5 separate regions of the Homo sapiens genome follow, and all the other regions are linked to region 1. Evidence: fine-mapped expression QTL. A gene starts in region 1. Each other region holds a variant in brackets. All regions are shown on one strand. Distances are between the middles of the regions.

What was found. PIP is the estimated chance that this variant, and not a neighbour inherited with it, causes the effect. A credible set is the group of variants that fine-mapping cannot tell apart.
Region 2: its variant is the best candidate, but not a certain one, in a credible set for the expression of ZFAT in subcutaneous fat (TwinsUK, PIP 0.52).
Region 3: its variant is the best candidate, but not a certain one, in a credible set for the expression of ZFAT in tibial artery (GTEx, PIP 0.81).
Region 4: its variant is the best candidate, but not a certain one, in a credible set for the expression of ZFAT in esophagus muscle (GTEx, PIP 0.85).
Region 5: its variant is the best candidate, but not a certain one, in a credible set for the expression of ZFAT in subcutaneous fat (TwinsUK, PIP 0.82).

What each region holds. Positions count from the first base shown.
Region 1 is chr8:134,710,349-134,716,510 of GRCh38, reverse strand. ZFAT (zinc finger and AT-hook domain containing) reads left to right here and starts at 3,480. Exons shown (of 16, transcript NM_020863.4): 1 at 3,480-3,666. The coding sequence starts at 3,648. RefSeq lists an enhancer at 3,469-3,648.
Region 2 is chr8:134,502,202-134,508,363 of GRCh38, reverse strand. All of the region lies in intron 15 of ZFAT (zinc finger and AT-hook domain containing), which reads left to right. Among named protein-coding and RNA genes, the nearest start is that of ZFAT, 210 kb to the left of the region's middle. The variant A/G (reference allele first, on the strand shown) is at 2,652.
Region 3 is chr8:134,524,129-134,530,290 of GRCh38, reverse strand. The region is part of intron 12 of ZFAT (zinc finger and AT-hook domain containing); the gene reads left to right. Among named protein-coding and RNA genes, the nearest start is that of ZFAT, 190 kb to the left of the region's middle. The variant G/C (reference allele first, on the strand shown) is at 2,951.
Region 4 is chr8:134,513,492-134,519,653 of GRCh38, reverse strand. All of the region lies in intron 13 of ZFAT (zinc finger and AT-hook domain containing), which reads left to right. Among named protein-coding and RNA genes, the nearest start is that of ZFAT, 200 kb to the left of the region's middle. The variant A/G (reference allele first, on the strand shown) is at 3,292.
Region 5 is chr8:135,649,546-135,655,707 of GRCh38, reverse strand. It overlaps a transcript of KHDRBS3 not described here. Among named protein-coding and RNA genes, the nearest start is that of KHDRBS3, 200 kb to the right of the region's middle. The variant A/C (reference allele first, on the strand shown) is at 2,911.

The sequences.
Region 1 (6,162 bases):
CCACTCCGGAGATTAATACTTGGGTACTGAGAGTACACACAGGTGTGCACAGGCAGACCGGGGATGTGATGGCACTCCATGGCCACTGGAAAGACAGGTGGAAAAGATGCTGTTTCCTAATCTTGTAATTATGTTCATAGTGAGATTGCTCATATAGTTCTAGCATTACTACATCCTTCTCTTTTATATGATTTTTAAGTGGATTATTTTCTACAATGTGCCTATTTAGATTTTTAACTGTTAACCCAAACTGATTATTCCCACCTCTGATTTTATCATTTTATAGATATATATGTGTGTGTGCATACATATGCATATATATATATATGTGTGTGTGTGTGCATATATACATATATATATATATATAAATAAATTTTAGGGACAGGGTCTTGCTTTGTTGCTGCCCAGGTTGGAGGAGTGCAGTGGCATGATCACAGCTTATTGCAGCCTTGAGCTCCTGGGCTCAAGCAATCCTCCAGCCTTGGCCTCCCATAGTGTTAGGATTACAGGCATGAGCCACCATGCCCAGCCAAGATCCATTATTTTGAGGTCGCCTGTATGTATCCTTTATCAAAACCTTCTTTCAAGAAAGCATCCTGTGAAATTATGTTCCTAAATTATTGTTTTCATGTAAATGTCTATTTCTCATAAAGATATTGGATATAATGATAAAATTATTGACACGAATATATTCAGTTGTGCAAATTATATTTCTTATATAACTAAATACCATTTCATGTCGATAAATTTATTGACACAAATTAATTCACATACTAGCTTCAAGAGGCCAACTGCCACCAGTGGTCAGCTGGGAAGCCGCTCTCTTCTAGGAACCATCACCGAGGCAGCTTGCCATTAATTATATACTTTCGAGTGATTTACATCCAATTCCACAAATGTGTCTTCATTAATTGAAGGCATTCTGAAATATTACTGGCAAATAGAAAGAATAGAGATGTTTGCTGATTGAAAATGTGCAAATCACATAGTAAGGCCGTGGAAGAGCCAGCTGTGGACTCATCTCTCCATTTACGAACCTGGATTCCCCCACAGAAAGGGGCCATCTCTTAGTCATTTCCATCTGCCTATGGCCAGGACAGTTTCCAGTAATAATAGGTGCTCAGTAACTCTTCTCTGAATGATGAATGGGTAGGAGGAAGAAAATGCCATGGGAATAGTGGAGAAAATCATAGCTTTCCAAATAATTAACCCAGAACCATCATCCACAGTCCACAATTTCTTCTTTTAATTTGTCTTCAGCAGTCTGAGGTAATTGGGTTTTGAGACAAATTTTAAATTGTTTCATTTCCAAAATTCGTTTGGTCACAACATCTAGGAGCAATCCATCTGCTAATCAATAAACAACATTTAAACGCTGCTGTGAGAAAGGCAAACCGGCACAAAACCAATACTGTCAGCAACCCAGAACAACTCTAATTTCCTGACAGAAATCGATTCACAGCAAAATAATGATTATTGTAAATATTTATAGTTCTAAAAGGAAACGCTCATCAATGCAGCTTTTTGAGCAGTTCATTTCCAAATAAAGATTCTGATGGGCCCCACCTAGCCATGTATCTTGTGGTGGAGGACGTGGTGGCTGTGAAGCGACTCTGTGGCTGTCTTGGAACTGGCTCTCTTGGAGGCTCTCCTGGAGGCCTGGGGGGCAGTTTGGGTACATTTTAGATGTGGTGGGGAGAGGAACACTGGGCATGGAGAGGCGAGATCCACACCTGGCTCTTCACTATTTTGCTGTGTAATCTCAGAAAGCCATTTGACCACTCTGAACATTCCATTTTCTCATCTGGAAAAGGACAATAATCATATTGCCCAACTTAACCTTCCAGATTGCGAGGATGAAATGAAGAAGGGGGAGGCTATATCTGTGAGCATATATTTAACAGACTGGACAACTTTAGGGTCTTTTCATGGTTCCGTATTTCCCAAGAACAGGGTTAAGGAGCAGGCGGGCAGTCTCCTGAGAAATCAGATGAGTCATCCTGAAGCTCAATGCCCAAGGGAGTTTTCCTCCTAAAAAATAAGTGACCCCAGAACGAAGTGTTCATTCAGTAATATGACTATGCAACAGGCGCTGAGAAAACAAGATGAAAAGGACCTATAAGGGCTGCTCAGGAAGCTCAGTCTAGTGAGGATGAACGCTGTGCAAACAGAGAAGTGGGGGATGGAGCTAGGCCAGTGAGACCAGAGCTGTGGGAACATGAAGTGTGAACTTCAGGGCTGTCCGAGAATTTCATGTTGAGCAGCAACCAAAGAGGGTTATTCCAGGAAAAGAAGAACAGGCAAAGACTAGCATTTCAGGGGAACCATGAACACAAATCAGTTTCCCAAACTTCAGTCTCCTGAAGTCTGCTTTTACACTTTTTTTTTTTGGGGGGGGGGGGGCATGTCTTTGCAGCATGTACACCATTTTAAGTTGACTGATTTTTGAAAATGTAAACGAACAATTTAAAAACTTTATATGACTACTGTAAGTGAAAAACGTTATTTGTCATGAACAGAAAATGACCTTAGAACATGGACCACATCAACTCATTACTCATGAAATAAATAACTGTCAGGCTCAGTTTGTTTCTGAGGCTAACGGGGTGACCATTGACAGAGGTAAGGGAGGGAGATAATGACAGATAGGAATGGATGCTACGTAGAAAATATGAAGTGTCTTGGAGGGTTACTTTAGATGGGTTTCGGGGGGTGAGGGTTAGGGGCTGGAAGATATCATTTGAGCCGAGGACTACAGTGTTGGAGCTAAACACCTTAACATCAAAACCAAAAACAAAGTCATTAAATTTCCACCAGACTCAGCTGCCTGCCGAAGGCTGTGCCACAAGCAGAGAAATGAATGAGCGGGTGTTGGAGGCGCGCACATCCAGTGCAGACTTGTTGTGGGACAAAAAGAGACGAGAGAGGAGGAAGTCGCCTTGTCACGTGTGATCGTAGGCCGCTCAGTGCTCTGTAGCCCCTAAAACCCAGCCGGGTGGCCCAAAGGAAAGCACCCCACGCTTCGGGAAACGCCGCAGCTTTGAGCGGGATGCAGGTTGGGAGCACCCCGATGGACACATCAGTAAACTGAGAGCAAGAAAAGTTAATTCGCTGCCCCAAGTTAGGTAGTGAGAGGTAGAGCTGGGACACGAAGCGCACCCAGAACTCTCCTTGCACGCCCAGCTCGGCGGCCCCACATGCCGCGGGTCTAGGGTCGCGCTAGCAGAGGCCTGGCACAACCGCCAGACTCCTGACCCCGAGATCCGCGCTCCGGACCTCCCGAGGGCCCCTCCCTGGGCGTGGCTCAAAACGCGGCGCAGCGGAATCCGTGAAGTGGGATAAAAAGCACGGCCTCCGACTGCGAGCATGCGCGTTAGCTCGGCCCTGCCGGGCCGCGCTCGGCGCCGGGGGAGGGTCACCCGAAGCGGACGTCCGCTACGCAGGCGTCTGCGCCCCGTGGGGAGGAGGGCGAAGACTCCATCCGCCATGTTGGATGCCGCAGATTCGCCATAACCTCGCCGGCTCTTTTCTTAAAAAAATAAAAATAAAAAGCGAAGCGTCAGCAGGGCGCCCCGCCCCCTCGGTCGGCACGGGAGGGGGCCCGGAAGAGCCCGAGGCTTTTTTTTCCTCCGCGGTGGGGCGTTGCCATGGAGACGCGGGCGGCAGGTGAGCCGGGCTGGGGGTTGGGGTGAGACGGGGTGGGGGTGGGGCGCGGCGCGGCGCGCGGAAAGCCGTTTCGAGCGTCGAGTCGGGAAGCAGTGCGCCGGCCGCCGGCCGCCGGCCGCCGGCCGCGGAGGGATCCGGGTCTGGGGAGGAGAGCGAACGTAGTTGCGTTCTGCGGCTCACGTTCAGTCGCTGGGGTATCCCGCCGCAAAAAAAAAAAAAAAGCAAGGCGGGAGCGAGTGGGAGAGCATGCGCCCGGCCGTTTCCACGGCAATGGGTGGCGTTGGGGCGCGGGCCAGCGACGGAACGCAGTGGGCGCGAGGTTCGAATCCCGGCGATGCCAGCTCTTTGACTGGACCTTGGCGGGGCTTCCTTCTTGCCTGGCCTCGGATTCCTCCTTGGCGAAATGAGTACCTCCTGCAGGCTTCCCGGCCGCCGGCTGGACCTAATAGAGTGACAGATCTTCCACTTGACACCCGGTGCAAGTCATTTAACCTTGAGCTTGGGGTCCTTCACCTGTAATTACCACAAGCTTCCACATTTGGGCACTGACTTAACACGTTTTGCTGCTCAGCTCTCTTGAGAACTCTAATTTGTAGGTCATTTATTATGAGGAACAGAAGTTCAGAGAGGTCAACTTTACACAGTTTAAAAACGACAGAGCTGGGGCTTTAAAAATTAACTTCCTCCAACTTGGGCTAAAATCCAAACTCCTGCGTGCTCGCCTGACTTGTACCTCCATCTTCTTAGAATAGGGCTTGGCTCATGTAAGTGTTCACTATATACTTAGTGAATGAAAGAACGAACGCGCTAACTGATCACGCCTGCCCATCAGTCTGGCTTTTTTTGCTGGAGTCCAAGTGACCTTTTGGAGATGCCCCGCACAGCTGCCTCTCACCAGCTTTATCTTCCGAGCCTACCAGTTCATCTACTGAAACATCTGTAGTGTGTGTCCCCATGCTGAAGGAAGTAGCGTGTCCTACCTCTAACCCCCAGGGACACCTTTCCTGACTTTAGTTCAAATAACAGCTTTGCAAGGATCCCCTCTGCACGCCAGGCAGGGGTAAAGAGCAGTCCCAGTCGTAGTCCTGCCTCCACCTGCTGCGGTGCTAGATGTGGGAGAATGTGTCCTGGAGTGACAGAGTGGGCCCAGAGCCGAATATTGGGTCAGGAGACCCGAACTATATCAGGCGTGCTTTTTTTTAATTTAATTTTTTTAATTTTTTGGGACAGAGTCCCGCACTATCACTCAGGCCGGGGTGCAATGGTGCAATCTCGGGTCACTGCAACCTCTGCCTCCCGCCCTCAGGTAAACCTCCCGCCTCAGCCTGCCAAGTAGCTGTGACCACAGGTGCGCTGATTAGCTGTGGTGCCCAGCTGATTCAGGTGTGCTGTCTTAGGTTAGCCTAAAATGAGCACCGGAGAGACTTGCTCTCCAAATACAGGTTGAGCATCCCTAATCCAAAAATCCGAAATCGGAAATGCTCCAAAGTCTGAAACTTTGAGCACTGACATGAGGCCACAGTGGAAAATTTTCTATCTGACCTCGTGAAGGTTCTCAGCAGAAATGCAGTTCCATAGCCGGGCGCAGTAGCTCACGCCTGTAATCCCAGCACTCTGGGAGTCTGAGGCGGGAGGGTCCCTTGAGTCCAGGAGTTCAAGACCAGCCTGGGCAGTGTAGTGAAACCCCATCTCTATTTTTCTCAAAAAACAAAACAAAACAACAGTTGCACAACTGTAAAGACGATGCTGTTAACACTCAGAAAGAAATGCAGGCTGAACAGCAGACTTAAAGCCAGCCGTTGTTTATTGTTCTGTTGTTTAGCAGCTGATGCATGTGTTCTGGTGATGCTGCTGTGCCGCTTAGGTACCTTGAACACCTTGTTTTTCACTGTATTAATGGTGTGTCATATTTTTTACTGGTAAGGACTTATGTGTAAATAAATGTAAGAAAGTGATTGTCTTATTGGTAGCATAGAAATTCAGAGTCGGGAATGATGGCGATGCCAGACAACCACAGATTGCCCATATGTGTGGCTGAGATAGTGACACCTTTGCTTTCTGATGGTTCATTGTACACTTTGTTTCATGATCAAAATTAAAAATATTGTAAAATTACCTTCAGACTGTGTGTATAAGGTGCACATCAAACATAAATAAATTTCATGTTTAGACTTGGGTCCCATCCTCAGGTTATCTCACTATGTATATGCAAATATTCCAAAATCCAAAAACATCTGGAATTCTAAAACTTCTGGTCCCAAGCATTTTGGATATGGGATCCTGAAACTGTAGTTTATTTGGGAATAATAGGGGATTGCAATTTAGATACATGCGCTATGCTGGATCATAGGTACGTCCAAAGAAGTTGGGGCAAATGGAAACTTTTAAAGACCCAAAAGGGAAGTCCACCTAAGCGGTTTTGAAACAAAGACCATTGGTTTCAGAGGTTTATTGCAGGAGCTGGCATTAGTCCATTGGAGACAGGTGCACCAGGCA
Region 2 (6,162 bases), 210 kb after region 1:
TCACATAAGGACGCCTGAGTGATGTGTGCCTGGTGACCTCATGAGCCAGGAGGGGACATCCCAGCGCTGTCTCCACAACTGTCCCCTGAGTGTGCCCAGGGCACAATGCAAAGCATGAAATTCAGGCCAAGTAGTTCTCTGGGGGAATTAGTAAGTACATTCAGGTTCACCTCTTGGGTTTCTTGACCTACGGACAAGACTTAGCATATCTAGATGAATGTTTGGATCACATGTCCTAAAATCCCTCCTCCACAGTGTGATTTCTCTCAGGAGTCGAGCTGGAGAGTAGGCAGGGGGATGCTTCAGTCTGTAGCAACCTGGTATCTGCGTTGGCTGAGAAAAGATTCATACACTTCCAGGCTAAGTACCTTTTTAGCTTTTCTTGGTGTTTACTAGATTGCAGTCTTCAGATTGTCTTATAAATATCTTCTGAAACTCCTCATTTGCATCTTGACATGTGGAGTCCCCAGCTGGACCTGGTACTTTAGGAAGGGTCTCTCTGGGATGGTATCAGGAGGACTTTGAATGTTTCATACACGCAAAATCCTTTTGAGAGTGCAGGAAGGTGCTTCTGGTTGTGACTTGTGTCTTGTTTCTGAGAACTAGATTGATTTGCTGCTGCTGGGAGACATGATTTATTGAGCCTCGCAGGCAATGCAGTGATACACGAGGTCACAGGGGTTGGGTTATAGCTTAGATATGCTTTGAGGCATCAGACTGACAGCACCACAAGGGATGAGGCAGATAAGCATCCAGAACGACCAGTGTCGACAAGCTAAATGTGTTTGCGGGAGGAGAAAACAGTGCCGCCCTTCTGAGGATCTTCTTTCTTATTGCAAACACAGCAAAGAGTGGTGCTGTTGAACACAGTCGTGGGGAACTGCATTTGGAAATGTTCCCCAAGAAGGTGTATGTCCTGGCCATTATCTTGTCTGCCTGGCCCCGCACCTCGCTCACGGTGGCTGTTGATAAATGACAGAGAGGAGAGTGGGTGGACAGACTGATGGGCGGGTAGACGCTGAGCACCACTCCTATAGCAAAGGAAATGAAGTGTTTCAGGCTCTCCCAGGTGAAAGGATGCCCTCTGAATTCCATTGTCGTATAGTTTAAATTGAAATATAGCAGTATTTATTAGAAAAATTGGTTTCAACCTTTTTCTTTTAATTAAACTCTGGTTTAGGATTTTTTCAGTCAAGAAATTATATCTGCTTAATAACTGTGCTGAAGCAATGAAATGTGAACTCTGTTGCACCAGTTGGAAAGAGGAAAGCTTTTCCTCCTGTGGGAGGGACCTTGATGTCAGGGGCTTTCTCTTGCTCAAACCCAAGACATCACACATAGTAGTTGCTTAAAAAATGTTATGAAATAGAATTGACTATGTTGGAGGTTTTGATTCTTCAATTGTATCCTACAAATCAGTATTGCCGGAGAGAAAAAAGCAAGAATTCCTCATCATAAAGTATGTGATGTATATCGCAGAACAATGTTTCAGATTACTATGGGATAGCATCTTTTGAGATCTTTTTGGATCTCTTTTATATACATCTTCCACAAGACCAAAAACAAAACAAATTCTACATTGTACATAAGTTGCTTCTGGATGGTTAAACATTTCAAAATTTATTTCTCATAAACAAATAGATATATACTCTATTTACAATTTTTCATGACTTGTTAATGTTAATTGAAAAGAATCTTATATATCAAAATTCATCAATAATCACTGAAAGGGATTAATCCCAAGTCTTCTGGGGTTTTCAGCTTCTGGGATGAAAGTAATGGCAGGCCTGGTACGGGGCTGGCAGTGTTGGAGAGAAGAGAGCTGGGAAAAAACTGTTTGCTTCTTGGTCTTTAAAGAGACAAGGAAAAGATTTTGCCCATAATTGAGACCATTTAAATTCTTTGTTGGACACAGAAATCTGTCCTCAACGACTTCTTGTCACTTTCCCTCTTTTCTTGAGTGTTGGCATTAAAAATAGATTCATGGGGCCCGAGCATCTCCCAACGCTCAGAAAGAATCATGCTTGCGTGCCCCACTCCAGCCTGGCAGAAGGGCCCAGATGAGAACCTGAGTGCAACTAAATGTGTGTTTGTTAAACCTGACAGTTTTCATTAAATAAGGTGATTACTTTTGTTAGTGTTGTTAAATCTTGCGTTAAGGTTTTATGAGGAGGAAATTTGTATTTGATAAATAGAACTGCCTAAGAAGGTAAATGGAAGACAGCTAGCCGCACAGGAAATGCTATCATGAGCATCTCTGAGTCAAAATTAGTTATTTAAAGGAAAAGAAAAACCAAAGAAAATAACAGCAATAGTCATCACCAGTGGCTCATGGCTTAAATCACTGATGGATGTTCTTATGATTAAATTTTATTTTAGACTCAAAGTAACATTGTATGTATGGTTGACGGGCACTCATTTAGCAGGCATTTACTGAGCAACCACTCTGTGTTCAGTCTCTGGTTGTGTTAATTTCCTATTGCCACTGCCACAAATTACCACAAATTTATGGTTTAAAACAACACAAACTGATACTGTCTTACAATTCTGGAGGTCAGAAGTCTGCAGTGCTTCCTGTGCTAAACTCAAGGTGTCGAGAGAGCTACAGTGTTTCTGGGAAAGATTCCTTTCTTGCCTTTTTGGGCATCTAG[A/G]GGCCACCTGCACTCCTTGACCCGAGGCTCCCTTCCTCCATCCCCAGAGCCAGCAACGGCAGGCTAAGGTCTGACATCCACTCACTCTGACCTCTGTTTCCAGGGGCAAATTGCGATTGCCAGCCTTCCTACTCCCTTTTTAAAGGGCCCTTCTGATGACATTGGACCCACCCAGATAATCCAGGACTGTCCACCTGGGATGGCTTCTCTGTCACCAGCTCCTTAATGTGATCACATTTACACATTCTTCTTTGCTATATAAGGCAACATATTCACAGGCCTCAAAGATGAGGACATGGACAGCTTTGGTTGAGGGGTGCGGGCATTACTGTGCCCACCACACTGGGCTACAGAATTAAGATTGTTCCTGCTCTCAAGAGGCAAATAGTCTAACAAGGGAAATGACTTATTTTTTCATGCAACAAATATACCTTGAGCTGCTTTTACCAGCCAGTCACTGTTCTCAGCACTTGGGATATTTCAGTGAACATATCAGGTGAATGATATGGTCGAGAAGCTTACGTTTTAATTGGGGTAGATAGCCAATCCATATACATGTAATAAGTAAATTATAATAGTACGTTAGAGGCAAAAAGTACACTGGAAAAAAGAACAATCAGAACTGGTCAAGAGGTATGGAAAATGCAGCCTTAAACAGGCAGTTCCGATCGAGAGTGATGAATGCTTCAGGGAGGTGGCCCAGGGACCCAGGAGTGCTGTGGGGAGCACCAGGGGCCCGTGTACCTGGGTCTGGGGTGGGGGCAGGTGCTGAGCAGGGAGGCCTTGTGAGTGTAGGGTGGGAGCAGGGCTCCAGGCAGGAGTGGGTACAGGAGCTGGTGGCTGGCGCCAGCTGGGTGACTGGAGGCAGAGGTAGGGGTGGTGGAAGAGGGCCTGCATAGAGTAATGACTTGCCTGGTTGTAACATGGGCCAAGGATTCCAAGTCTCGGAAGTATCTCAGCCTGGTCTCTCCCTTCCGCCCTTCTGCCCACTTGGAGTCCAAGCAGTTTATAGCCTTATGGCATGTCCTAGGGCATAATGTCCTTTGGCCATGGGCTTCCTGACCTATGTTACCCTCTTGAAGTCATGTTGGCGTTTTTAACAAATGACAATTTCTTGGTTCTTGCAAATAGTGAACCTGCACTGAGCATTCCTGCCCCTTGATATTTAGCAGAACAATCAGTGCCTGTCTAAGACTGTCACTGACATTTGTCTTGGCCTCTTGTTCCTGGGTTCACCGAGCCAGCTACTGCACCGTGCCCTTTCTTCTTTCCCTGGGGGTGTTTTAAGTAATAAGTACACCTTATGATGACACAGCATCTTCTTTTTAAGAAGGTCAGGATGATTGAACAGTTTGCCTTTATGATAATCTTCGGTCTTTCTGAGTTTTGTGTTAATTTTGTATTGTTTTTACTGCTGAGGGTTTGCCCTAAACAGCAGACTGGGGGTGCTAGGGCATTGTGGGGTGTCAGCCTCTGAGGTGGGGGAGGGAGTTGGGCTCCCAGTGAAGTGGTGTGGGTCATTCGTTCATTGTACAAGTTACTTTTCAGTCCATGTGCACATACGAATGGCCAGGACACTCCCCTGTGTACAAGAGCTTACCTGATGCAGTCTTGTCCAAGTGAGGCTGTCCAGCAGCATGCACTTTACCAAGCCTGCTTCTCTGTGACTCGGCCACCATTCCTGCTTTACTGAGACCTGATAAGAAATACGTTGTGTTTGTCAGAGTTTCTTAGAGAAACAGAACTCATAGGGGTGTGTGTGTGTTCGTGTGCGTGTGCGTGTGTGTGTGTGTGTGTTTGTGTTCAAAAGAAGGAATTGGCTGATGTGACTGTGGAGGTTGACAAATCCCAATGTCTGCTGTCAGCAAGCTGGGGTCCCAGGAGAGCCAATGGTGTGACTCCAATTTGAAGGCTGGCAGGCTTAGGACACAGGAAGGGCCAGTGTTTCAGCTTGAGATCAAAGGCAGGAAAAACCAGTGTCCTGGCTTGAAGGCTGTTGGGAGGAAGAATTCCCTCCTTTTCAAAAGGGGAGGGTCACCTTTTTAATTCTATTTAGGCCATCAGCTGATTGGATGGGCCCCACCCACACTAGGGAGGGCCATTTGCTTTATTCAGTCTGCCAGTTTAAATGTTAATCTCATCCAAAAACACCATCACAGCCATACCTAGAATAATGTATGACCGAATATCTGGGCACCCATGGCCCAGTCAAGTTGACATATAAAATGAACTATTACACATGTACAAATATGTTTCAGGGTATGAGTGTCTGTTTTGTCAGTGAAAAACTGTTATTTGCTTCAAGGGTGAAATTCTCAGTTTCACAGAGACAATTTTGGTGGACAGATTTCATGGTGATTTAGTAGCTTCCAGAAAACACATCCATTGGCAGATCCGTATTTCTATCACAGCTGAGATTTTGGTTCAAGATTCAGGAATCAGCTCTATCCTGTGTATCCTTGAGAGAGTGACAGCTGAGGACTGTGCCAGCATGGCACACTAACCCCCAGGAGTCCTCCATGGAGCACCAGCACTCCACTCAATCCTCCTGGCCATGAGTAAGCAAACCATTGTTGCCACTGCCCCCATGGGAGTAGATGTCTAGTAGGAACTAGTGTTAGCAGCACTCTACGTGGCAGGCCTTTGTCTCTGTCCACATCAGGCATTTCCCCTGCAGCCCAGGAGTTGGCTGCCCTGGCTTATGAGCCTGGGGTGGGGATGGGGTGTCACACACACTGCCTGCCAGTTTTAGTGCCTCCTGGGGTTGCCCCTCTCTTTTGTTGGTTGTTTTCCTGCAATGTGCTAGATGCTTCCACACTGTGTGCTGGGGCCTCAGTGGGAAGGAGCAATTTGGACTGCCTCAGACCCATGGGCACCCACCTCTTCCCCATGAAGGCCCTTAGCCGGGCACAGCACAGAATTATTCTGCCTTAATCTTGTTCAAAATCCCAAGTGCTCCTCTGACATGCTTTAACCACTGATCAAAACGAAACAAACAGAAAACCAAGCAGGAACTCCAGCTTTGCCCAAATCACCCCACCTTCTTCTCCCAACTGCTTCTACACAACCTTTGCCACCTTCAGCCTTCAAGTGGGTCCCCGTGATGGTTGGCAGTGTTGGGAGAAGAGCAGGCAGAGCCCCCACCCTGGGCTCAGCATACAGCGTGAAGCCTGAGAGGGAGCTTAAGTAGCAGTTCTTGCTGGAAGACATATGTTGGTTGCCAGCCAGGGTTGGAATTGCTGTTTGTTATTTGCAGTTCATTGTTTTTTGCAAGAAAAGGCACTCTACTTCAGTGGAGACCATATACACCAGTTGCCTGTTTGCAAGGAAGTGCATGTCCAATCTGTCGTGTTTTAATTTAAGGCACTGAGTAATGTGGTCCCCTGACCCCTTTCTCACTGCCCATCTGGACAAGGGCTCCTGGTAGGGAGAAGCCGCTCTGCAGAAGGGACTTCTCAAGTGCAGCCTCTGGCTTGAGAGAAGCCTGGTGCCCTGTGGGCCACCTGAAGGG
Region 3 (6,162 bases), 190 kb after region 1:
CTTCTACTCCCCCAAAAATATCTTCATGAGACTTTATAATTTCATGTTTTGATATAGAGGAAGATGTCTTAAAATAACATCATAAAAAACACAAATAACATGTATTTTTCTCAAAAGGATTTTACAGTCTCCTTTAAACCATGTGCAGGGATTCCTTGTGTATCAGCTGTGTTAAACAGTGTCACACTGTGACATGTGCAAAGCTATTGATTCCTAGGAAAGACCCTCCTGCCTGCTATGCCACAGGGATCCTGGGATTCCAGGGAGGGGTTCAGTGCACAGTGCTGCAGAGGAGGTCAGGAAAATGGCCTAAAAGGAGCTGAGGGTTCCCACATCAGATACTTCTGTTCTGTGTGGGTTTCTAAGGGAAGGTACTATGGCATTCTCCATGGAGTTTGGGTGGTTTACAGTGTGTTCCCAAAGCTTGCTGGGAAGAGTGGCTGCTAAGGCTCTTCCCAAGTAGGAGGGAGGGGAAACATGACTTGTAGAATTTGCCAATTTCTGTAGTGTAAATACTTCTACCATGGCCAAGTTTAAGCTGCTCACATGATGTCCCTCAACGTGGAGCGGGGACATGTGCACATTTGGCTTATGAGCTTGCGTATCTTGGTTCCCACGTACCTTTCACCCTGAGGGCACTGGGTGACATTGCCAGGTGTCTGCCACCAGGGCCTGTCTGGATGTACTGATCCCTCAGTACTCTGATACTTTGTAGTAATTAAGGTAGTACTGAGCACTATGTAAATATTATACTCCTGGCTTATATTTTATGTGCATCTGATGCTTTGAAGACAGATTCCTCTTAGCCATCACTTCTTCATTAATATGGATTTGAAGCATTCTCCCACACAAATGCACGTTTCATGCTGTTTAAGGAAGAAATACTTGTATTGCTTCAGTGGGCCTGCCCCTTTCCTCCCCTTAAAATACACCTGATTAAGCTAGCTCAAGAACTGGTTCAGTAAATCACAGGCTGTGAGAGGCATCAGATACTTTGGTGCTAAGCTTTATGAATCTTTTGCTCACTCCTAGAGCATGTAGCAGGGTGAGGATGGGGTTTAGTGGGCTTTCCAGTGGCTTCCAAGCCCTCCCTCAAGTCTCTCTAGGTTATTGGAATGACCACACGCTTGGGAGTCAGATGGACCTGGGCCGGGATTTTTGATCACTGTGGACCTTGGACCAGGTACTTAACCTCTCTGAATCTTGGTTTATATACCACCAAAGAGGAAGGCTCATAACCTACCTCCACAGCAGTTGCAAAGATTAGATATCATTCTCTAAGATTCCCAGAGAGTGCCGACAGTAAGTTCTTGATGAATGGCTCAAATCCACTATTACATTTATCTGCATATTTCTACTTTGAGCATGTATCTCTCAAGCGCCTACAGTGTGCCTGGAACCATGCTAGGCACTGGGACTTGGTGTCAAACAAGGCAGTCGTTGGTGGTATTATTGTTATTCCTGCCCAGGTTGCGGACCAGGGCTAGGCAGCTCCCGCCAAAGCTCTGTATTCTAATTACAGCAGAAGGAATACATCCCCTTCAGCTGTGCCCTGGAGCGGAGTTAGCTGCTTCTCCCAGAGGGCTGTGTCCCCCAGTTTTAGAGTCATTGAAGTGTAAGGGTGGGTAACTGGAGGAAGAGGAAGCAATAAGAGGAGAAGTGTCAAGGAGACGTCTTAGTATTTGGCGTCTGCTAGAATCTTTATGTTACTTTGAAGTGCTATATTAGAAAAATGTAAATATGTATGCATGTGTACCTTGGATGTATATTTGTGTATTAGTTTTTTACACCAGATTCAGGGAAAATAGCATAGCAGGAAATCCAGAAACTGTGAGGTAACCCACAGGTGATGTATTTGATTTTTAGACATCTTAATTTTAAAATTGTTTTTATTAGGGCCCAGATTCAATAAGTTCTTGGCACATGCTTCTAGTGATGTGATATAATGCTGTGTTATTGATTGTTATTTTATGTGTTAATTTATCTCTCACAATGGCCCTGTGAGCTTGGCATAATCGTTCCTATTGTGAAATAAAGAAATGAAGGGAGTGCTAATGACTGACCTCAGGTCACACCAAGCAAGCAAGTGGCCAAGCCAAACTCAGTCTCCTGATTCAACGTCTGTGCCTTTGCCACTCCCATGTTTGATGTCCCCTAAAGTTTGTAGATGTTTGCACTTATTAGAGAGGAGGAGGAGAAAGAGGAGGAGAAGGAAGAGGCGTGGTCATCTCTTAAGCAATTGGGCCACATTTGCTGGTAGTTGGTGGAAAAGTCACACACATGGATACTGTTTATTTTCTCTTATTTCTTCATCCCCGAGGCTAATTGCTAATCTGACCCAAGACTGACTCTGAAACCTATTTCTTTGCAAGTCCTTCCCTATGGTAATCCAGAGTGTCTCAGATCCCAAGATTTGGGGGCGTATGTGAGGGGAGGGGGCGGATGGGAAGACCTTGCTTATGCTCCTCTGCCAAGTGTTTCTTATTGGGTTTGGGATATCAGCTTGGCTGATAATAAAATGCACTTTGTTTCCTCTGCTGCATTTTCCCTTTTGCTCTTTTTCTTGAGGATCCTGTGGGAAGAGGGGCTGGGATTTAAATAGGATTCAGATAGTCCCAGGTAGGATCTAATATTGCATGCCATGTCACCAGGAACCCTCCACCTCAGTGCTTGCATGTGACTTCCGGTTAATTTCTACCCTTAAGCACTTCCTAGCTCTGAACTGGGGCCCTGGCTGGGCCTAGGACAGACACTGAGTTAAGAGACAGTAGGAAGTGCAAATGTCAGCAAAATTCTATTCCATATTCACTTGTTAATCTAATACAATTTTTCCATATCCACTTTCCTTGGATAATTTACCTGCTTTTGTTCCTTGTCCTTATCCGTATTCGTATCTGTCAGTGCCTGTGTTAGTTGCCTGTAGCTACTGTAACAAGTCACCACACACTTC[G/C]TGGTGGATTAAAACAACACAGTTTTATTATCTTAGTTCTGAAGGCCAGAAGTCCAAAATGAGTCTCACCAAGTTAACATCAAAGTGCTAACAAATATTCCTTCTGGAGACTCTAGGGGAGAATCCCTTTCCTGGCCTTTTCTAGCCTCTAGAGGCTACCTACATTCCTTGCCCTGTGACCCCCTTCTCCACCTTCAAAGCCAGAAATGGCCAGTGGAGCTTCTCTCAGATTGCATCTCTGTGCCCTCTCCTGCCTTCTTCTTATAATGACCCCTGTGATAGCATTAGGCCCACTCGGAGAAACCAGAATGACCTCCCCCTCTCAAGATCCTGAACTGAATCACATCGTTTTTGCCATGTAAGGTAACATGTTCACATGTTCTGGGGATTAGGATGTGGCTGTCTTCAGGGACTCATTATTCTGCCTACTGTACTCAGTGCCTTTTTTAAGAATAGGAACTTTATTGCAGTGGCTCATCTCAAAAAAAAATAAAAAATAAAAAAAAAGAATATGAACTTTAGCATCTTCACCTTCATAGAAGAGAAAACCAAGACCCAAGAGTTTCAGGAAGCTTTGGCTTACCTGAGCAAGTGCCAGATTCAGGTCTTGTGACTGCCCAACCCAGTGTTGTATGCCATTCTGGGAGTTATATTATTGAAAATGAAATTGAATTTTCAATAACGTCAAGCACCACAAAGGAGCAGAGATATTTTAATGCCTGAAACTGCTCCAGAATATATTGCATTCCAAAAAGAGCAAAGCGTACCATCATCAGTTTTTTTAAATTTCTCTTGAAATTCTATATTTTCACCTGATTAATCAGTCCGTGGGAGGAAATTGTGATTTGAGGACTCCTGGTTTTTATGGTGTGCACTTAATATCAGTGCCATGAGTAAATTCACCAAGTCTTCCGTTGACCTTTACTGTGCATTGCCTAAGAATTTAATGAATCCAAATAGAAATTAATTTCTCTCAGCTTTGATGTCAATTAACTGGCATAGTTATACATTCAGTCTAGATTACATATTTTCATTTGTTGTTCTTTAATTAAAGTCACTGTGGCAAAGGCTGAAGTTTTAATTAATGTGGGGGCATTATCATATTAAGTTTAATTTAAATATAATATAAGAATGTTTTCCTCTCTGAATTAGTTTCCACTAAAGAATATCCCAGAAGGAACCTTTAATTTCATTTTAAAGCCTAAGTTTAACCTTTAAAAGTTTGCCTTTGTTCATCATCACATATTAAGTCTTTATAGGAGAAGCAACATCAGCTTAACAACAACAACAACAACAAAAAGTGGAGGTCTTCATAACTTGGAGGTTTTTAAAAGGTGATTGAAGGAAAAGACATGATTTTATCTGATTTAAAAAAGCAATAACAAAGGAAGTTAAAAATGAAGTTTATCCTCTGGGCAAGAAAGAAGCTCATTTGTTTTTGCCTAAAAAACAGCACAGTATGTTTGACTTTCAGAAAATAAACATCCATCTGAGCTGTCTTTTCAGCAGAATATTCTAGAATTTAAGAATTTAGTGTTTGTTGCCAGTCTTTCTGCTGACAGCGGGCGCCTTCTGCCTCGGTGCCCTCCTCTGCCTCCACCAGGGTTGGGGCCAGGAAGCAGTGGGCGGAGGTGCTGGGGCTGCATGTGGCTGGCAGGTTGGCCTCTGTACTAGTGACTCTTTGGAAAATTACCCACAACCTCAGCTGATAGAACAGAAACCCCAATAATAGAACACTGCTCTGTCTTGATTCCACTGACACGGAATTGATTTGGAGATTGAGCGCATCAAAACTGCATCTGGGAGATGACTAAATGTGGGCCACATCCCCGTGAGGTTTATCTGGTATAATTTGTCCAGACAACCTTGATATCAGGACAGAATTCCTCCATTTCTTCCCGAGTACCCTAATGAGCAATACATAAACATAGCAGCCTGAGATACACTCAGTGGTCAGCTCAGCTCTTTCGTTGCCTAAGTATAAGCATCTTAGTGGTTTGTTCAGCTCACATGTATATTGGGGAGGTGGGATACTTTGGGACATCACTGGACCTGCATATCAGAGATATAGAGGGGACTGTTTGTGAGGCTTTAGGACTCCACACAGAGGATGAGAAGGCTGTACAGGGATTTGAGTTGGAGAGGTGCTTGGTAGAAGAACCAGGAGTGAGTGGTGTCACAGAAGCCCTGAAAAACTAGATCTTGACTGGAGAATGTGGTCAGCATCGCCATATAATGCAGAGAAGTCACAGTGGACAATAGCAAAGGCTGGGGTTAAGGATGTGTGTTAGACTTAGATTCAGTTCTTAACTTTGCCAGTGTGACCTCAGTAGGGTTACTTCACCATCCCAAGCCTCTGTATAAAACAAGCTAAGCATGCCTGTGTCATTGCGCTGTTGTGAAGAAACCATGACTTGATGTATGAGGTGCCTGATGCATGGTAACTGCCCAGTTAGTGGAAGACATATGTTGTTATTGCTATTAGTAGTGTTGGTGGTGGTACTAGTGGTAAGATAAAGAGTGAAGAGTATTCATTGGATTAACCAATGAGGATGTTAGCTGATCCTGACATGTGCAATACCAGGAGAGGACTGAGTGCAGGAAGCAGCATGCTATGGTGTGAGGCAGGGCTTCTCAACCTCAGTACTGCTTACAATCGGGGCCAGGCCAGTGTTTGTTTTGGGGGCTGTCCTGTGTGTTGTAGGGTATGTAGCAGCATCCCTGGCCTCTACCCACTGGATGCCCTGGGCACCCCCCAGTTGTGCCAACCAAAAGTTCCTCCATACATTGCCTGTCTGGGAGGAAAATTGTCCATAGTTTAGAACCACTGGCCTAAGTAATGAAGAGAGACAGGGAAGTGAAGAATTCATATTATTTTTCTAGTTTAAATTTATAATCTTAATTTCAGTAATTATTTTGAATAGGGCAGTTACTCTCCCATGGAATAAAATTTGAAAGATGGAGGAGATGTGAATGCTGGCCTCCTCCACTTGCATCCCAGCCTGTTGTCCACCCCAGAGCATCACTAACAGCACCTCTTTCTAGTGAGTTCTTGGAAGTGGAGACTCCACAGAATCCTGGCTGTGAAGGAAAGGGGAAGATAGACCGGCACCAAGGCAGGCCCTCGGATAACACTGAACACACTTATTTGGTGAGGGGACAGATGTGTACAGAGGGGAGGTGCAGAAGTCCAAGGAGAGCAGGGGGATGGT
Region 4 (6,162 bases), 200 kb after region 1:
AGGAAAGAAATAAAAAGTATCTCTCTATACATATAATAGGATGATATTTTCAGAAAATCCAAAAGAATGAATGAAAAGCTAATACAAACAAAAAGCAGCAGATTAAAATATCAACATACAACAGTTAGTTGTAGATACATGTACACCTGCACATATGAATGTGTATACACATATGTGTAAATATAAGAATATGTATATGCTAATATATGCACACATATATACATACATAAAATCAGTTACAATGGAAACAAAACCCCCATTTGATACAGGAAACAAAACCAAGATAAATCTAGGCATAAACCTTATAAAAAATGCCCAAAATGTAAATATGGGAGACTATAAAACACTTCTGAAAGAGACATAAACCTAGAGTTGAGGAAATTAATGGGAATACTCAATATCATAAAGATGTTAATTCCCCTGAAAGTAATTTATACAATAATTTATCAAGGTAATATGATCTATTACATATTACATGTAATCTAAATACCATTAGATTTTTTCTGGAGCTAATCAAGTTGATTTCTAAAGTTCATTTGGAAGAGTAAGTACAATTAACTAGGAAACCCTTGGGAATAACAACCATAAGAGGAGAATCCTACCAGATATTAAAACATATTATGAAATCTCTCTAAGTGTGCATGAACAGATGGTTTAATGGAATCGAACAGAAAATTTAGAATAGACCCAATGACATATGGAAATTTAGTATATGATAAAGATGGTGTCTCAAGTTGGTAGGAGAAAGGTGGGCTTTTTGATAAGTGACACAGGATAGCTAAATAGCTATCTGAAAAAAGATAAAATTGAATCTGTTTACTATAACATATAAAGTTATATGAGAAAAATTTCAAAAGGATCAGATATTTAAATATAGAAACAGTAATATTTTACAAATACTAGAAGAAAGCATAATTGAATTCATCTATAAACTGAGAGCTCATAAATAAGTAAAAAGATAAATGATAAAAATATTTTTTTATATAGAAAAAATTAATATCTTTATAAAAGGCCTATAAAAATAGTGATGAGAAAGATCAACCCTTTAGAAAAATGGACAAGAGATAAGAAAGGTTCAGGGAAAAGAAAATGTAAATAACATCGAATATCTGAAAACATGATCAGCCTCACATGTAAGGAAAGAAATTTTCATTAAAATTAGCCCTGGATGGAATTTCTCACCTACTAGCTTGACAGAGATCCAAAAGTTTGACATTATCTCTGCTGGAAAAGCTGTGGGGAAATCTGCTCTCATACGTTGCTGGTGGGAATGTAAAATGGCCCAGCCTTATGAAGAGAATAGCAATATGTAACAAAATTACATTTGCATTTCTTTATCCATTAATTCAATAATCCAACTGTTAGGAAACCATCCCAAAGTTTCACTGGGACACTGTGTCCATACTGACATAAATAAATGATTGAATAAATAAATGTGGGAGAAGGAACTATGCATTTCCTCCAAAAAATAATGATTAATAAATGTAGAAGGAATGAGGGAAATAGAAAGTTACTATTAGAATACCACAGGAACAATCATAGCAGATGAGATCCGTTAATGAGTGCTAAAGTTAGTAGGCAAAAGTTTAAGGAGAAATGAGATATTCACATAAACTCTGAATATCTCCTTCCAAATATTTGTTAATTACAGAAGGCAAAAATAGGAACTTTATGGTGGAGGTACCACCTTCACCAAGCAGTAGAGGTTGGCATCATCAGTAATGAAGCATGCTGACATCATGTGTGACCTGATACCATGTGATCAGATGAGAAGACACTTCATCTCATGGTATTCTTAACTGAAATCTTCAACCTCAGCCTAATTATCAGAAACCATTGGACAAATCCAAATGATGGGTGTGGTCAAATACCTCATCTGTACTCCTCAAAAGCGTCAAGGTCATGAAAGATATGGAAAGTCTGAGGAACTTTCACAGCCAGGAGGAGACAACGGAGGCATGATGGCTAAATGTGCTGTGGGATGCAGAATTGGATCCTGAAACAGAGAAAGAACATTAATGAGAAAACCGGAGGAATCTGGAGAAAGCCTATTGTTTAATTAGTAATAGTATCCAAATGTTAATTTCTTGTTTTGATCATTGCGCCATGATTACGAAAGATGTTAAGATTAGGGGAGGCTGGGTAAAGGGTCTCCAGGAACTCTCTGTTGCAGCACTTTACATCTTTGGAAGTCTTGTGTAAGTCTAAAATTATTTTCAAAGTAAAGCAGTTACAAAAGATAAGAAATGGGGTCATTATATGTAGGGAAAGGAGACAGAGAGCAAGATGGAAGGGATGGGGAGAAGCTAAATTTCTCAAAATACCCTGCTGTGTAGATTTGACTCTGATTATATATAAAATATTGTAAAAGTATTTTATATAATAATAACAAAATTAAACTTAAAAAGCAAGTCTTAAACATTGTGAGTAAAATGAAATAAATTATTCTAACTGTATATCAAATTGGTGACTACGTGGAGAGGAACAATTTCAAGAGACTTCAAAACAGTTATTTGATTGGGATGTAACCTAAGGGCAAAACAAACTGCAAAAACTGCAGTTATCAAGTATTGTTGGTAGTAAGGACAATATTGTGATTCTGAGGCTGTTACTAGTGTTTAATAATGACAGCGAAACACATAAAATATGTTTAATTCTGTAAGTTTATAATGATATTTGGAAAAAACAATTCAGTCACCTTTGTAGAATGTTAGAGAATCAACTCTTTATTTTGAAAATTGGTAAATTAAGACCAAGAATCAAGCCATTGTTCTACCTTTATTTTTTAGTTTTTTTTGAGAGATAGGGTCTGGCTACCCAGGCCGGCATGCCATGGAGCCTCCCTTCATAGCTCACTGCAACCTGGAACTCCTGGGCTCAAGCAATTCTCTTACCTCAGGAGACAGTAGATAGTCCTATCTACTATCTTCCAAGTAGATAGGATTATAGGCAAGCACTATAATTTTTTGAAATTTTTTAAAAATAGAGACAGGATTTCTCTTTGTTGCCTAGGCTGGTCTCAAACTCCTGGCCTCAAGCAATCTTCCCACCCTGGCTTCCCGAAGTGCTGGGAATACAAGTGTGAGCCACCATACCCAGCCCTATTCTACCTTTAAAAACAAAACAAAACAGAACAAAACAAAACCCTATGTAAACATAACCAAACATTCGATGAGGGGAAGTTTTTTCTTTTGAAATATTTCAACTAACACATGAAAAATTAGAATATTACCATGTTGCAACCTTCTAATGATGTCATGGGTTTAGCAATGATCATCAGTTACTGCTAAC[A/G]TTACATAAAAGAGACCACCATCCAAAGCGTGTCTCCTGAAAGAACTGCCCAATATAACCCATGAAGCATTCTTTGCAAAAAGGAATCTGAATCTAATTAAGCTTTTGTATTTGTATCCAGTGACCAATTTACAGAAAACACCATGGATGGAGGAACATTGGTCAATTCCATGGTGATGCAATCAGCGAAACTTAGATTGCTGACAGCTCTCTAAGGCAAACACCCTGCTGTCTTCAACAAATAAACTACAAGGGGAGAAAAGCCAGAAATGGAGGGAGAGCATATGGATTTTAAGTCTTATGAGACATATTAATCAGTTCTAATGTGTGAACCTCATTTAGATTTGATTTGAACAAACCTAAAAAGTGAGGTAATTGGGGAAATTTAAACATTGTCTAGACCATTGATGATGTTAAGGATTTATTGTAAAGTTTTTGAGTGTGACAGGAGCATTGTAGTTCTTTTTTGGATGAGTTTTATTTTTTAGAGAGACAGTATGAAATATTTATGGGGCAAATAATGATTTCAGGATTTGCTTCAGAATAATCCTGGGGCAGGGCATGGAGTACATGGAAACATAGTCCAAGAAAGTCTGGCCATGATTCAACCTACAGAATGGGAGAAAATTTTTGCAATCTATCCATCTGACAAAGGGCTAATATCCAGAATCTACAAGGAACTTAAACAAATTTACAAGAAAAAAACAACCCCATCAAAAAGTGGGCAAAGAATATGAACAGATACTTCTCAAAAGAAGACATTTATGCAGCCAACAAACATATGAAAAAAAGCTCATCATCACTGGCCATCAGAGAAATGCAAATCAAAACCACAATGAGATACCATCTCACGCCAGTTAGAATGGTGATCATTAAAAAGTCAGGAAACAACAGATGGTGGAGAGGATGTGGAGAAATAGGAATGCTTTTACACTGTTGGTGGGAATGTAAATTAGTTTGCCCGTCGTGGAAGACGGTGTGGTGATTCCTCAAGGATCTAGAACCAGAAATACCATTTGACCCAGCAATCCCATTACTGGGCATATACCCAAAGGATTATAAATCATTCTACTATAAGGACACATGCACACACGTATGTTTATTGCAGCACTATTCACAATAGCAAAGACTTGGAACCAACCCAAATGCCCATCAATGATAGACTGCATAAAGAAAATTCAGTACACATACACCATGGAATACTATGCAGCCATAAAAAAGATGAGTTCATGTCCTTTGCAGGCACATGGATGAAGCTGAAAACCATCATTCTCAGCAAACTAACACAGGAACAGAAAACCAAACACTACATGTTCTCACTCATAAATGGGAGTTGAACAATGAGAACACATGGACACAGGGAGGGGAACGTCACACACCAGGGCCTGTTGGGGGTGGAGGGCTAGGGGAGGGATAGCATTAGGAGAAATACCTAATGTAGATGACGAGTTGATGGGTGCAGCAAACCACCATGGCACGTGTATACTTATGTAACAAACCTGCATGTTCTGCACATGTACCCCAGAACTTAGAGTATAATTAAAAAAGGAAAGACTTGCCATGATTGATAATTGCTGAAGTTGGTTAATGGACACATGGAGGTTTATTAGACCCGTCTCTCTGCTCTTGTGTATTGAAAATTTTTTTATAAACATTCTTTTAAAAAGTAAGAGTTTTGGAGTCTGACAGACTTAACTTTGAATCCTCTGTCACCTATAAACTGCTTGCCCTTGAGCCATTTTTTAACCCTCATGGCTCAGTGTTCTGCTCTGTACAGTAGGCTGATAATCCCTGAGAGCTCAGAAGCACTGAGAGAAACCATTTGTAAAATGCTGAGGCCTGAATGAGCCCCTGGAGGCCCTCAAAAATGGCAGCTGCTATGATTATTGCGGATGTTGATGATGATCACTTTTACATCTTCATCTATGCAAAAACAATTAGTCACCTAGTGTTTCAAGTATTAGTACATACTGGAAGAATTTACTCTTCATTAACAAAATAGACACTCGAGTGTCAATTACTGATGTAAAACTCAATCTATCTTGTCAGTCGGTGCTTTTATAAAAGCATGCAGTAAAGCCTCGCTTCCAGCTGATGCTAGCACTTTATGCAGAGCCGTGAACCCAACAGAAATAGTTGACATAAGACTGGGTAGTTGACTCCATACTCATCTCCATGAGATGGTGAACAGCCAGGAAGCTGCCATGAAGTGGTCACCAGTGGAGTAACAAGCCACCTCTTCCAGCAATGTGTGTGTCACCTGGCTCCCAGGAATGCCTTGCAACGAGTACCAGCCTTCCTGACAGCAACTATGACATGCTTTCCCCAGAATGAGGAGGAACCTTTCAGGTTGCATCCTGTCCTTTCACGGGCTCAGGCATTGCCTGGATCTACTGTCGGCTAATCTGTTGCCTCATGGTACTGAGAACAAAATGTTCTTCTTTTTGTTCATTTATGCATTCATTGAATATTTTTTGGGTGACTACTATATGTCAGGATGGAAACACCTAAATGGACTTGGCCAGTTGGCTGTGAAGGAATATTATATGCTATTCTGAACCTCTATGTCATTTACTGATATATGCTTATAGAGCATAACTTGGCACCTGTAGATTTTGTCTGAAGTCCTTCTTTTTGTTCTTCTTGATTGGTGACATTCATGCATCCAGCCTTACAGTTTTGCTTGCACTCTCTGCCCCTTCCAGAAAGAGATAATTATTAACATCTAGTTCTGTAAAAATTCTGTTCCACCTCTTCTCTCTTTGAGGCACGAGGTACCTGTGAATGCCACTTTAACTCCTCCTACCCTCGCAAGTCCTGATTTTGTGCAAATATATTTCTTGTAGTCAGTTTTATTTCTTACACTTTCAT
Region 5 (6,162 bases), 940 kb before region 1:
AATGGCCATTGTGGTGATGTTGACTTCTCACGACTCTGGTCATACAAGTCCCAGGCCCTAGGTAAGTGTTTGATACCACAAAGTGTGCTCAAAACAACTCAGGACATCGCCGATGGCTCCATAGGACCCAGCCCCTTCCTCTGTCTCCAGATGCATCTCTTTCATTTCTCTCCCAGCATGTTATATTCCAGCAGCTGCTTATACGTTCCTAAAACACATGACGCCATTTCATGTCTTGGTTGACACCCTCCTCTCCCACCTGTATTAGCTTATTATGTCTTCACATTTTCTCCTCCCTTCCTGGCTTGCAAGATTTCGACTTTCAAAACTCCATTCAGGTTTTATTTCTTCCTTTGTCCTCGGAGCAAGTTCATCCCTTTCTCCTCTGCACCATCCCTGCCCTTCTCTAGCCTTTTATTGCTGCAGAGTGCCAGGGACACGGTGGGCGTCTCAGTGTCACCTGCATAAAGCATCAGTACTGCTAGGATGAATCAGATGCAAACTGTTATTTAAAGGTGAATCCTCTAAAAAGTTAAACATCTAATACAGTAAATCTATTGATGAGGGCATTGCCTTAATTAACCAATAAATATTTCTTGAATGGCTTGTGCTGAATGCTTTCAGGTTTATAAAATGTGACAGACACACCTGTGACCCTCAAGGAGCATACAAGGGATGAAGGACATTTACACAGCACCATCCCATCAACCGGCAGGTCAGAATGAGACATCTGCCAATCCAGTCCTCTCAGCCAGGATTCTCATGCGGAGAGAAGAGAAGGCTCTTTTGGCTGAGAGAGATAAAAGATCTTGAAGAAATGGGAGGATCTGGATAACCAGAGAAGAAGAGAGGGTGGGCAATGAGCCCGTGCAGGGGAGTGCTAGAGGAGATCCTGTCTGTTTCCTCAGAGAGCCTGTCGGCCTCTCCTGCTACCCTGGTGTGGCCACCTTACTTTCCACAAAGCCTGCCCCACCACGGGCCAGCCCTTAACAATACACTTGCTGATGTAAATAAGCTCCAGGAATGTGAGGAGACCAGCAGGAGTCTGAGGAAGGGTCGCAGGACTTTCAGCTCTCCCCATAAGACACAGACGAGTGTCCAGGAGGTGTCCTTACTGGACCCAGCACGCCCTGCATCTCTTCGCTAAATCACACAGGGTAACCAGCCTGCCACATGCCAGACGCCATGCTGTGTATAAAAGACCATTTTAAACCAACTTTTGAGCAGATGAGTTTCTGGTGTGGCCACAGGAGCTAATCTTATAGATCATAATGAATACATGTAGCATTTAGATAGGTTTCTTTTACAAAAGCATATGAAGATGCACCATGACCTCTATGGGAAACATCTATAAAAGCCCAGTAGGTCTACTTTAAAAATTCATTCCACAGATGTTTATAAACATGGCTTCTTGCATTGCCTTTAATGTGAGCAAAATATTAGAAACTAACTACATCTCTGTCAGTAGTTGTTTGGATTATGGCTCTTTCATATAAATATTCAGCCAATAAAAAGAAAAAGGTAGCTTTCTAGTATAAAATAACAGAAAATGAGCTCTAAGACATACTTCAAAGTGAAACAAGGGGAGAAAATGGTATATTGTTTTCTATGTAAAAAATAGTGATAATTTAAAAAAATGCTTTACTTATGCACAGACTATCTCTGGAAAGATACATGAAAATCAATACAAATAGTTACCTGTGGGTGTGTGGGGGTAAAGGTGGGAATTAACACCATTGTGTGTATATATTTTGTACCAAGCACATGTATTACTGACTAAATAAAGGGCATATTTTGGTTTTCCAACTTCGCATTTATCATTGAAAAAAATCTAATGGTTAGAGAAATATCACACTTCCACTAAGAAAACAAATTAATACAAATGCTCCTCATCTTAGGATGGGGTTATGTCCTCATAAACCCACTGTAAGTCAAAAACATTAAGTTGGAAATGTATGCAATACACTTAACCTACCAAACATCATAGCTTAGCTTAGCCTACCTTAAACATACTCAAAACACTTACATTAGCATACGGTTGGGCTGAATCATCGAACACAAGGCCTATTTTATAATAAAGTTTGATATCTCAAGTAATTTTTGAATGCTGTACTCAAAGTGAAAAACAAAATGGCTCACTGCCATTGCCTGGCATGGCAAGAGTATCATACCACTATGGCTAGCTGCAGAAAAGATACATATTCAAAATCTGAAGTACAGTTTCTACTGAACATGTACTACATTTCCACCACTGTAAAGGGGAAATGTTCTAAGTCAAACTATTGTAGTAGGGACTGTCTGTACTGAAAAGTGCTCAGTGTCAGTGTTTCAAGAATTACAGGTTCATTTGTTCACTCATTCGTTCCTCACTGAACACCCTGTCAGTTCCCACTATGTCTATGTGCCAGGCAGTGTGCTAGGATTTGGAAGTACAAGTCCAATAAGACATGGTTCTTCTATCTTTAAGGAACTTCAAGTCTTGCAGTCAGGGAGAAAAACCCACCAACAAGCAGAACAGAAATCTAGCCTCAGGATAACACCACCATCCCCGCACACTTCACAATGGTACCTGTTTGTTTATTCTATCTCCTTGTTTTGACTGTCTGTTAGGTACTAGGACCTGTGTTAGGCAGCAGACACACAAATCCCGCCAGCAGCAGTTCAAATGAGATAAACACACAGGACAGAACTTAATAACCTGGTAAGTTCTCCTCAAATGAAAGGATGACTAATTTAATCGAATAAGGCCAAACAAGACCTAGTACATTGTCCTGTACTATCAGCCACTGAGCTACCACATCCACTTTATTCACTCATACATCCAACGACTTGTTCATTTACCACTTACTAGGCATAAGGCATGGTAATTGCCCTAAAGATATTTACAATCTGGTGGGAGGAAAGGAGGGT[A/C]AACAGCCAATCTCAGGATGCTGTATTGCAGAATTCATAGAGCAAGATGAGGGTCCATAGTAGAGCTGCGAAGATGGCAGGCTAGGGAGGGCCTCCAGGGTGAGGGGATGCTTCAAGCTCCACTGGGAAGTCTGGATAGGCCAGCAACAGCTAGCTAGACCAAGAGCTGGGTAAGAGTTGTGTTCATTCATTTGTGTGCATTTATTTGAGTGGGGTACGGAACTGTTACTTCAGGCAGAGAATGGCACTGATAGAAAAGCTCTAGATGGTTTTCAATCTATCAGGGCTGGACCACAGTGGGCTGGGGTCAGAGCATGCTGTGCTCCAGGCGGCTGGGCAGGCCAGCAGCAGAATCACACACGGCTTGAGGTTCAGAGCCAAGGAGGCTGAGCATTATCCTGAAAGTCACCGAAGGACTCATCACATTAAGATCTGAAAAATGATTTCAGCAATGGATGCTAATCACTGAAATACATTACTGAGATTTTTGAAACAGGAATGTCAGTCAGAATCAACTTCAACTGGACGGGATTTTCCATCGATAAGGGAGGGTGAAATTCAGATTGAAAAATGATCTGTAGCCTTTCCCAATCAGAAATAGAAACAGAATCAGGCATAAAATAGACTGTTATTTTAAAATAATGATGGATTTTTTCCTTTCTGTCCCTACAAAACACTGAATATCAATATAAATAGTAGATATTGTTTGCACAGAAAATAAACTTTATTCCTTAAATTTGTCACATATTCTATAAAATGTCTCATATTTTCATTTAACTTTTGACTCTACAATTTTATTTTTTCTTCAAATCATTAGTTTTACATTCTGGAACCTGTCTCTGTATACAGTGACCAGAGTCTTTCATTTTGAGTTAAACAAGGGAGCTAGACTATCTAAATTATAGTATCGTTAACATGACTGTGTGGGTTTTTTGGGGTCTGGGCTAACCGTTCCTAACACTGCCTGTTAGGAATCATCTTGCTCACAGTGACAATACCATTCACTTACTAAACCCTTACACTGTCAAATAACTATGTGAAGAGATGGGGACAAGAGGATGAAAAAGTGAGAGCAACTATTTTTTAAGGCACTGTAAAATCACTAACCAGTGGAAACAGAAGCTTGTAGAGTTCTTTTTGGAACACAGACTAAATGAGGCACTATATCTGCCCAAGGGAATGGAGTAGGCCAAGCTTAAAGGCAAAGAGGATACTACACTTGAAAATGGTTGCACTGAATTTGAGCTTCTTAGCAGAACCTACAAGACCCTTCATTACATGTCCCTTGTCCTACCCAGCCAGCATGGTCTCTTACTTTCTCTAATTATCTAATATACCTGAAGTTTCCTCAATGATCATGTTTTCTTATAATTGCAAATATTTACATATAGCAACCAATGAGTGAACACCTTTATTTGTCCCAGGCATGCTTCTAATCTTCACAGCAATACTAAGGTATCATGACTATGATATTTTATATATCATATATATATATAAATATATATATAGACTATGTCTATTTTATAAGTGGGGAACCTGCAGTTTAGACTCTTGTTTAGAGAGGTTAACTTACTGACTCAAGGTCACAAAGCGGGTGAAGGGCAGAGCGGAAGTATGGATGCTCTGAGAGTACCTGCCCTGTGTGGTTATCTTCTATTGGTCTTAATATCTCCATGGGCCCCTTCTGCTACCTCTGACCAACTTGCCTGGGTTACACATCTCCCTTCCATGTGCCTAGAAAGCACATGTATCTCTGTCAGAGCTTTACAGACGTGGTCTTTGCCCATTTCCCCAGTAGACTGTGGCACTTGCAAGGACAACAATGATGTCTTTAATCACTGTCTTCCTACCATCTGCAACACAGCAGGTGTTCAGGAAATATATCTGAGTAAATAATGATACTGACTTGACTTGGAATACCTGAGTATAAGAAGATTCAGAACCTAAACAAGTGAAAGACTCTCTCCATGAAGGAATCTGGTGCAGGGGCGGGGTAGAGAAAGAGAAGGGGGCAGTTATCACAATGCTCAGTGTTGTGTGAGATACTCTCTGGGATACAAGGTAACACAAATTAAAGGCTTCTGCTCTTAAAGAGCCTTTAATCTAAGGGAGGAGCCACTGTAATATAAAGAATGACAGTATAACAACATGGTTAAGATCAAAGACTCTGGATTGAAGTCAATCGGTTCAAATCCGGGCTCTACCAGTTATAAGGTACATGAGCAACATAAGTGTGAAATTCACCTCCTGAAGCTTAAATTTCTTCCTTTTTAAAAATGTAGATGATACCTTCTTATGGCTGTGAGGATTCAATAAAATAATCTACAGAAAGTGATAAGCACATGCTTGGCTTTTATGGCAACTTACAACCAATATGTGTCATATGATACCAATACTAAAATGAGGAAATATAAACCAAGCATGCTCTTTAGAGAGGGTGGAGGATCACAGCCTGATTTAACTGGTGAGGACATCATGGAAGAGAGGGCATGGGGCTGAGTTCTGAAGGACGGGTATGGTTTCTTCATGCAAAGATACAGGCAATAGCAAAGTTGTGTGTCATGGGGCTGTCACCTCCATTCGGTTTTGCGGTATTTGAATACCGGGTTCCATGTCTTATCAGTCTTTGTATGACCAGTGCCTCTGTTGTGTCCAGTATGGAGCTCATGTTCCATATATGCTGCCATATGAGAAAATAAATGAATTCCAAGGGGGTGAAAACAAAGGTTAGGGGGAAGCGATTTGGGAACAATGAAATGTGCTCTTAGAGACGTGAGAAGACTGGCTTATCTATAGCAGGGTCTTCCCATGGAAATAGAAAAAAATCAGGTCTGGTGGAGCATCAGCCAGATAAGAGAAGATCTCAAAGGCCAAGTAGGAAAGTTCCTGTCGGATAGTGATCTGGGCCTTTCTGGGTCACAATTCCTTTTACAGTCTGATAAAGCTATGGAAGCTTTGAAAAAATGACAATAAACATAAAATTGTACAGTATTTCCTGTTAATTAACTCTGAATAGCACCTGAGGATTGACCCTCTACCTCTCCATAATTCTTATTATTCTGTATGCCAACTCCTTAAAAAAATTATTTAATAAAGAAAAAAATTGTGAAAAATTTCAATAACATCACACACTACAGAGATGTGGTGGACGTCACATTCCCATTCCGTACAAGAGAAAAACGAACAACAACAAAAATCCAAACAGACAAACAAACAGAAAATACAATAAACTTAGTTTGGTCTACAAAAATG